Linked DNA regions of Homo sapiens: region 1 is linked to region 2. Evidence: fine-mapped expression QTL. Tissue or cell type: prefrontal cortex. Region 2 holds a variant in brackets; the other region holds the start of a gene. All regions are shown on one strand. Distances are from middle to middle.

Region 1 (4,513 bases), 83 kb after region 2:
TGGAGCTGTGTGTGTCCGTGTGTGGAGCTGTGGGTGTCCGTGTGTGGAGCTGTGGGTGTCTGTGTGTGGAGCAGTGGGTGTCTGTGTGTGGAACTGTGTGTGCCTGCATGTGGAGCTGTGGGTGTCTGTGTGTGGAGCCTTGGGGGTCTGTGATCTGAATGCCTGATCTCATTCCAACTGGAGGTGAAGAGGAAGGTGGAGGAAGTGGGGAAGGGCCACTGAATCTTTCTAAATCTTCTCTCAGTTCTGTCCTATGGGTTTGGGAGTATGTGGCTCATTCGAGGCCACATGGGCATGTGTTCTTGGGGTATGACCACATCGGCTCCTAAAGAAGATGCTCTCTGCGTGTGTGTGTGTAGAGTGCAATTGTAGACAAGCATATGACTGTGAATGTTTGTCAGCAGCCATCTATGAACTAGTTCTGCGCCTGTGAAAGAAGGAACCTGAATACGAGAAAATATCTGCCATCGGCTGTTTTCCCAAAGTTATTCTAGCCACCAAGGCCTCCGCCGTGTCCCAGCCTCTGTCCCCAGGCCTAGTGCCTCTCCATCAGCCTGGATCAGGGCAAATTCCCTGCCCCCAACTCTTCCCACCAGGGCCGGACCTGAAGGCCAAGGCCTCCGGGTATGTGCTCAGGACTCCTGGCCCAGAGAAGGTTTTTCCCTTTCTGCGTCTTTGCTTCCCCTTCCGCTTTGGGGTTCAGGAACCCCGATTCTCTGGAAGAAGAGAAGGCCTAGGCTACTGAGCTGCTCTGGCTAGAGACGTCCTTGAGTGTCTCTCTCTCCCGGGCAATGGTGGCTGTGCTCTGGGGGGCCCAGGCCTGCCTCCTGTGGCTGCGTTCAAGGCAGCTTGGAGGTCATTTAGGCCAGCTCCCCCGGGTTCCCCGTGGGCTCAAATCAGGACCCAGACCCTTCTCTCTTGCCACAGCTCTGGGCCACCTGGGACTCGGGACTTCCTGTCTCCCTTCCTACTCTGTCCTAAACCATTGTTCAGAGGCCTGCCGCCTCCAAGAATCGCCGAGGGAGAAGCTCCAGGGGAACTGGCCTGCCCGCATCCCCACTGCCAGTAGCGCTCAGGGTCCCAGGACTCGGGTCTTGCCAGACCACAGTGTCCCCTGGGACCCTAGGGTCTCTGGCTCCGCACTGTGTTGCGCCAGTGCGCCTGGATTTCCCGTGAGCTTTCGGCCAACCACGCTCCGGGCTTCCCGCCTGGCTCCGCACCTGCGGCGCTCTCACCTGCGGCGGCGCCGCCCGAGGAGCCTCCCAGCCGGCGAGGAGCGAGGCTTCTGCAGTCCTGCTGTCCCGCAGCCCCGCAGCCCCGCAGCCTCGCAGCCCCGCAGCCCCGCAGCCCCGCAGCCCCGCAGCCCCGCAGCCCAGCGCCAGAGCGCTGCGCGGAGACTCCTTGCCGCCGCACGCCCTGGGCCGGTAAGAAGCATCCGCTTCAAATCCCGCCCAGCGGGCAGCGCAAAGCGAGCGGTTTGGGGAAATGCCGAAGGGACCGGGAAAAACAAACTCCAAGTCGAGTTTAACAGCCGAAACGCTCCGTGCCTAGGCCGGCGGACAAGAAGGAGACAGAACAGATCCCTTGGCTCCCTCGCAGCGATCGATCCCGTTTACCGACCAGAGTCACCACCCCGCCCCCAGCCCGCCAACTCATACCTCCCGCAAGCCACCAGTTTCAAGGGATGCGGAAGCCAAGCACCCCGTGGTCCCCAGCACCAGGTGACCCGCACGTGCACTCACCGTAGCAGGGAACCTGCAAGGCCGCGCTGTGGCCGCTGCTGCCTTCCTGGAGTTTGAGGCTGCCGTCCGGGGGCGTCTTGCAGGCGCCTCGCTGCAAGTAAAGATGCGGTTGCGCGGGCGGCTGGGGCTGCGGCTGCTGCTGCTGCGGCTGCGGCTGCGGCGGCGGCTGGGGCTGCGGGGTCGACGGCTGGGGCTGGAACTTGTTAAAGGAGCCCCGCGCCCCAGCTCCACTCTCCAGGGGTGTCGCCAGGTCCTGCTGCCCAGCGCCGTAACGGGCCCGGCTCTTGGCGTCCCCGAATCCCTGTGCTTTGGCGGCGGCCGACAGGAAAGTTGTGCCGAACTTGTCGCCTCCGGGAAATGCCCTAAAAGGCGACGAGCCCTCCCGACTCTGCGACACCGGGCTGTAGTAGGCGTCCATGGCAGCGGCCGGCGACTCGCAGTAAGAGACGCAAGTCTCAGCATTCATGCCTGGCTTGCGCAGGCGGCGGGCGGGGACGCGAGCGAGGGCGCGAGGACGCCACCGCGCGCCTTGGCTGGGAGTTTGGGGAGGCGAGGAGGCTGTGGCTGTGCACTCCTTGCCCGGCCTGCTCGCTCTCCCTCCTCCCCTCCACGCCGGCCTCTCTCTCTCTCCCCCTCTTCTTTCTCTGTCTCTCTCCTCTCTCTCCCTCCTCTCTCTCTCTTCCCCTCCCTCCCCCCCCCTTCCTCTCTCTCTCCCTCTCTCTCTTTCCTCCCTCCCCACAGCTAGCCGAGGGAAAGAACGGAGGGCAGTAAAAAGATTCAGATGTTTCGGAAAGTTGACCAGATCTCCCAAACCCTCTTAAGGTTTTGCAGCGGAAAAAAAAAATAAGTAAATTTTTTTCCCTGCCTTGCTTCTTCCTTTCCCCCTCTCTCGTCCCCTCCTCCTCTCTCCTTCCACTGGCCCCTGCCCCCTCCTCTCCACTCTTAAGGAGATGCTACTAACTCGCTAGCGGGGATTCAACCCGGAGGCGCCCGAGGGCTTTTCCGATTCTAGGCGGGGCTGGGGAGATGCCAGGATCCCCAGGGCTCCCGAGGCTAGGCTGAGAATTGGCGGGGTGTCGGAGCTTTGCCTTAGGGCAAAGGGAAATGCAAATTTTAATGACAGGTTAAAAAAAAGCCCCCCAAAATAAACCTAACAGGTTTTGACATTCGAAGCCAGGGGGACCACGGGCCTGCGGATGCAAGCGAGTCCTACGGACTCCTGCGCGCGAGCTCGCGGGCGCCGCTGCGGGCCTTCCCGCTGGCACCTTTTCCTAGGTTTCCAACCTTCCTCCCCATTCCCGTTCCTACGGGAGATTAACACACACACAAGCCTTCGTCGTCCAGTGCATGGTCACTTGCACGTCTTGTTAACTATTTCCCTCTGCTGTAAGGGCGCTGGGCTGGGATGTAGCGGAATCTGTGCTCCCTCAAGCCCTGGAGAAGCCCTGGGCTGGGCCCGGCTTCAGAAGCTTTAGAGCGCTGCCCTCTGCGCTCCCGTCTAGAGGCCGCACCGTTCACGCCCCACGTCTGCGCCCAGGCGAGGGGATTTCCTGCCAGGCGAAGTACAGAGAGCGGACTCTGGAGACCCCCTGACCTTGCCCGATAGTCGCGCTGTCACCTGTTCACTCCTTGGGGTCAGGGGTCGGGGAGAGGGGTGAGACCGTCTCTTCCCTTTCTGGCCTCACTGCCCCCGACTGTAAAACGAACTGCTTGGTTTTGATAGGTTGTGGTTTCACCACCACTGCGAGCCTCAAGGCCCCTGGCACCGCCACAGCAAGGGAAAAAACTTTGCGCGTGCAGCCCCTCGATTTCGCTTCATGACAACCGTGCTAGAGATTGGCGCCCCCAATTTTCTGATGAGCTAACGGAGGCTCAGAGAGGGGCGGCCACCTGGTCCAGGTCACACAGCTGGGAAATAGCCGTCGCGCCCTGGAACCTCTGCTCAGGCTAGTCCCTCCACCGACCTGGAAGGCCGTGCGGACAGCGTAGATGCAGAGGGGAAACTGGCCCCCGGCTGTGGAATGGTTCAAGTTGAAGGAGACCAGCGAGAGCAGCCTTCCTTAAACCGCTGAGAAAATCGTTAAGCGAGAACGTACCTCTAGGGAGTCTGGGAGTAGGGTGAGAGGTAAAAGTGCAAGGTAAAATTAAAGAGGGCCTGAGCACCGTGAACCAAGGAATGTGGGTCAGATGTCAACTTTCTGCATCTAAGGTCTCCCAAAGAAAAAATATACCTGGGGGGTCGCGCTTCTGCTCCCAATCTCATCTGGGCTAATTCTTACCCCCACCCTACCCCCTTAGTATCTCTGGTCCTTGCTCCGCCGCCGACCGCGCGATCCCACATCTGGTTTCCATCGCCGGCTTACCTTGAAGTGCTCGTTAATAAAGATATTCCGCAAACCAAGCCAGGAGCGCGCAGGCTCCAGCCGCCCCCCACTCCATGCCCAATGGGAACCGCGCCTCACTGGCCCGCAGACCTAAGCCACTTGAGAGTCCTTTATTTATTGAGCTCCTGTTGTGCCAACAATCTGGCAATACAAGGCTTATCATACCCATTTTGCATATGGGTAGACTGAGACTCAACCAAAATAATTTTCCAGTTAGCAAAAAGCGGAGTGCTCCTGCCATCATCCTAAATGCTCCTGTCCAGCGGTTTCTTCAAGTTCCTAGAACCTGCCAAGGTCTCTAGCCTGTGCACTGTAGCATAGGTGGTTTCCCCTACCTGGAATTCCCTAAACTCATTCCTGCACTTTTGTCTGGCTAATGATTCAGAG
Region 2 (4,000 bases):
GCAATCTCCTGAGATTAGACTTAGAAATAGTATGACCCACACTGGAGCTGAGGTTATGGAAATAAAAGTGATTTCATCTTTACTGGGTCTTAGGGAGCACAGAATTAGAAAACCCACGACCTGATCCTGACCCATCTCTTCCTCCTCCTCCCATCCCCTCAAACTCTCATCTCTCCTTCCCTTCTTATTATCTCCCAAGAGATTCATTGCCTCATGAAAAATAGTATTTGGGGTTAATCTTTCATTTAGCTGCTTTTTGCTTGTGTTTCCTTCTCTGCCTCAGAGCCTCACAGATTACGAGGTTCCAGTAGGCCCTCAGATGTCAGATGTGGAGTCTCACTAGTTTGCTGCACAGCTGACTGGAGTTCTTTCTTTTAATGGTGTGAGCATATGGCTTTCTTTGCTAGATGGAAACCACATTCACAAAGAGCCTGTAGCTTTTAGAAATGAAGACTGATGGGAGCAAAGGGTTTTTTCGTGTTCCCTGCCTCCTCTCCCTACCTGGTTCTATTCTGAATCTGGTCATTCAGCAGGCACCTGTGACCCTCTTCATATCTGCCACTGGCACCACAGAGCTGAAGAACATTGACCCTGAATGTCGTTTTTGACATCATAATCTGACTTCTTTGTTTTCAGGTGAGGGGCTGAGCTTGGGGACAATAAGGTGCTTTTTAGAATTAGCATAGTAGGAAGTCAGATGACTTCATGAATAGAAGATTGGACTGGGAGTTCGGGCCAATTTAGACTTGACCCAGCACTGTAACCTTGGGAGAACCATGTCTCTCCAGGTCTCAGTTTTCTCATCTGTGCAATGAGGGAACTGGACCAAGTCACCTCTGCCTTCTACATGATCTCTGAGGTTGCAGATCTCTGAGATAGCTTGGACAGTGGTCATCAGCTCCAACTGCCAAAGTGTGAGTCTTCTTATTATCCACAGAAGGCTCATGGTTATGCTGTCCAGTGAGCTGGTACAGATACAAGGATGAGGCACATGTTTAAAGACACTTTCTTTGGCAGTATCTTCCTAGTAGTGGTAATTATTGAAAGATTTAATGGCACAGATTTTTTTATCAACTATGGCCAACCCCAGTCTGTCTCTTTGCCATCTTCATGGCACCTGGCCTTAAAAAATAACTTGCAAAGAATGGAGATCAGGTGCCCCAGTACCAAGGTACCAACCTCTAGCCAGACTGGAGCAAATGGGAATGCTGCCCAAACCCCAGAAGCCTGCCCATGTAATTGGTTTTCCTGCGTGGCTTATTTTAAGCAAGCTCCTGCCTGGGGTTGGGAAGGTCTCTCGGACAGACTAAAGTGATCTCACAGGTAAATCTTAATCCATAATGCAGTTTGTCCATGTGTTTGTCAAAACTAGTCAGCATTAGGGAACTCTACATGACAACTTCTGGGCTCCTTGGCTGTAGATGGCTAGTATCAGCATTGAATTGTGTCCCAGGAGTGAATGAAGGCTCCTTGGCTTTTCTCAAAGCACATCCTTGACAAAAACTGCCAACTACCACTGTAGTTAAAAGCATAAGCTGAAAATGAAGGCAGTCAGTCCCTCCATTCCACTTCATTTCAGGAAATTCCAAAAATAAAAGGTGAGCTTTGTTCCCAGAGGGCTGAGAGTGAATCCTATAACTGGCTCCTCTGTGGAAACCAGCTCGGAATTGGAAGCCAGCCAGCTGCCCCTTTCCCATCTGGGCAGCATGCAAGACGAAGCCTGAAGGGAAGAAGGGCCACTAATTCAAAGATGCTTTTGCATATTGGATTCCTTGTGCTCTGTCTTGGCTGACCCAGCCATGTGACAGCAAGGTTTGAGCTGGTTCATAGAGCTCTGTTGCACTTTAATGGTTAAGGATTGACCAAACTCAGGCAGTGTGTGCAAGGAAGGAAATGAAGCCATTGCCAAATTTGATGTGCCTTGGATCTATAGACTGCACCCCCAATTCCATTTCTCTCACTACTTCTTAGTCTGTCTCTTGGTTCATGAGTCCTGATACATTGCTCACCCAGTAGCAATATCCCTGTGGAACTGTGCCTTTGACAGTGTGATGACTGTAGAAGCCACTTCAGAGTGGCTTTTCTCCTAGTGCTGGCCCGTGATTTCATAACTGAACGTCCCAGATGGGCACCACCTGTTGTTACACCTTCCCCCTTCTCCCCCTAGTCTGTTTCCGGAATCTGACTGCGGTTAGCACACACCCTGAGTTTAAAATGCACTCTCTAAGCTGGCTTAGAAGGTAGTGCATTAACTTCTTTTTAGGACCATTTATT[G/C]GGTACTTCTATGTGTATGGCATTTTAAACAAAGTTAGATAATGCAGCCCATGCTGTTTAGAAACTTACAACTTGAAACAGATCACAATTGGTGGGTTAGTTCCCTGGGAACAGGTCAGTGAGGAGGAAGATAAAAAATCTCAGCTGTTAAAGGACATCAGAATTCACTTAATCCAATCCCTTATTTTATAGATGGCAAAATGGAAGCAAGACACCTTGAATAGGTCAGTTGCACAATGCACTAGTGGCAGAGCTTCCTGGACCTACTTTAACCATGTGCCTCTGGTCCACTTTCTATAGGATGTGAGACTCAATCTAGGCTGCCCCCTGTGGGCTTTTACACAAAGGTAGAAGATATTTGTTTGATCCTATCTATAGTAATGGGACACGACAAAAGACCTCAGGAGGCTCAAGAAAGAAGAACTTGGAAAATGGCCAAGTAAGCATAGCTGAGAATCTAGAGAGCAGAACATTTCCATAATCAGGTAAGAGGTGTTGAGGACCAACAGGTAAGAGGTGTTGAGGATCCTTCACTAGAATGTAAGCTCCTTGGGAGAAGTCTCCTTGAATACCTTGTCCATCACTTTAACCCCAGTACCTGGAAGAGTGTCCAGCATAAAGGTTGGGTTAATAAACATCTCAAGTCTGATGGAAGCCTATGAATGCTTACTATGCAACTTCACACAATCCTTACAACAGCCCTATGATGTAAATATAAAAATTAGAATGGAAAGAAACAGTTGGAGGACGTTCTTACATTGTTACAATCCCCATTTGACTAGTGGTGTGGGATAGCCACAAATGGAAGGACTATCCAAATTATTGCTAAGTCCCTAACTTAGGCATAGAGTTTTTTATAACAGAGATAGGCTTCTGTCCCCAAAGATGCGTGCAATTTAAAATAGATGGGGGCACTATATATATGGAGGATTTCAACAGTATAGACAATTTAATATTGACTTTGTGAATAATATAACTGTGGAAGCACTGTTACTGGAACTCCAGGGATATTCTGTGAAGTTTCAAATGCCCACACCACAATATATAAAGGCATTTGGTAGTAATGACAAAAGGCTTACCCAGAGCATTTCCCCAAGGTAAAAGGAAAAAAGTTGAATTAGAGTAGGGGTGGGTAGCCATGAAGAGACAGGGTAGAGTTTGAGCTCTTGCTCGTCTGGCTGGGAAAATGCTTTACTGTATACATAATCGACTTCGTACTACACTAGGGCTCAATTAGAGAGGGCCCATCCCATTCTGTTTCACTCCGTTTTGATCCTGTAGTCAGCTGCAGAGTTATAGATTAAGTGACAAGGATGGTATCTTGATTGTATCCAGCTGCTTGGAATCAGTCAAGGGCTGAGAGGCCCCGCATGAGGAACAGCGCTCACTATAAAGGCTCCAAAGCAACCTGAAATTCAGGACACCTCTGATGCCTTTTAGAGCAGCATAGTTTAGTATCTGACCCATTGTCACCAAATTAAGTCCCTGAGAGGAGTCTGATAAGTGATTTCAGCCAACAGTAAGAGGACCGAAATCTTAACAGCATTGGACTTGACAACTGAGCCAATAATAGTAATAATGTAATTATTATGGCTGCAAAAGTGGGGCTTGTAAAGAAGAATCCCTAGGGAAAGCGATTTGAACTTTTCTTAGCATGGAGGAGAGAGCTGTGTTGACTCAAAGTAAACAGGGGGAGAAAAGCAACTTCCATCTTCAGCAGAAGTGC

Which allele goes with the higher level. Alleles are on the strand shown, and positions count from the first base shown. SD is a standard deviation of normalised expression in the study named.
With allele G in place of C in region 2, the expression in prefrontal cortex of the gene that starts at base 2,285 in region 1 is lower (small effect, 0.29 SD a copy in CommonMind).

What was found. PIP is the estimated chance that this variant, and not a neighbour inherited with it, causes the effect.
Region 1: it holds the start of ALX4, and the variant in region 2 is the best candidate, but not a certain one, in a credible set for the expression of ALX4 in prefrontal cortex (CommonMind, PIP 0.68).

What each region holds. Positions count from the first base shown.
Region 1 is chr11:44,307,855-44,312,367 of GRCh38, forward strand. It overlaps ALX4 (ALX homeobox 4), which reads right to left and starts at 2,285. Exons shown (of 4, transcript NM_021926.4): 1 at 1,743-2,285. The coding sequence starts at 2,208. RefSeq lists an enhancer at 2,263-3,191.
Region 2 is chr11:44,225,002-44,229,001 of GRCh38, forward strand. All of the region lies in intron 10 of EXT2 (exostosin glycosyltransferase 2), which reads left to right. Among named protein-coding and RNA genes, the nearest start is that of ALX4, 83 kb to the right of the region's middle. The variant G/C (reference allele first, on the strand shown) is at 2,275.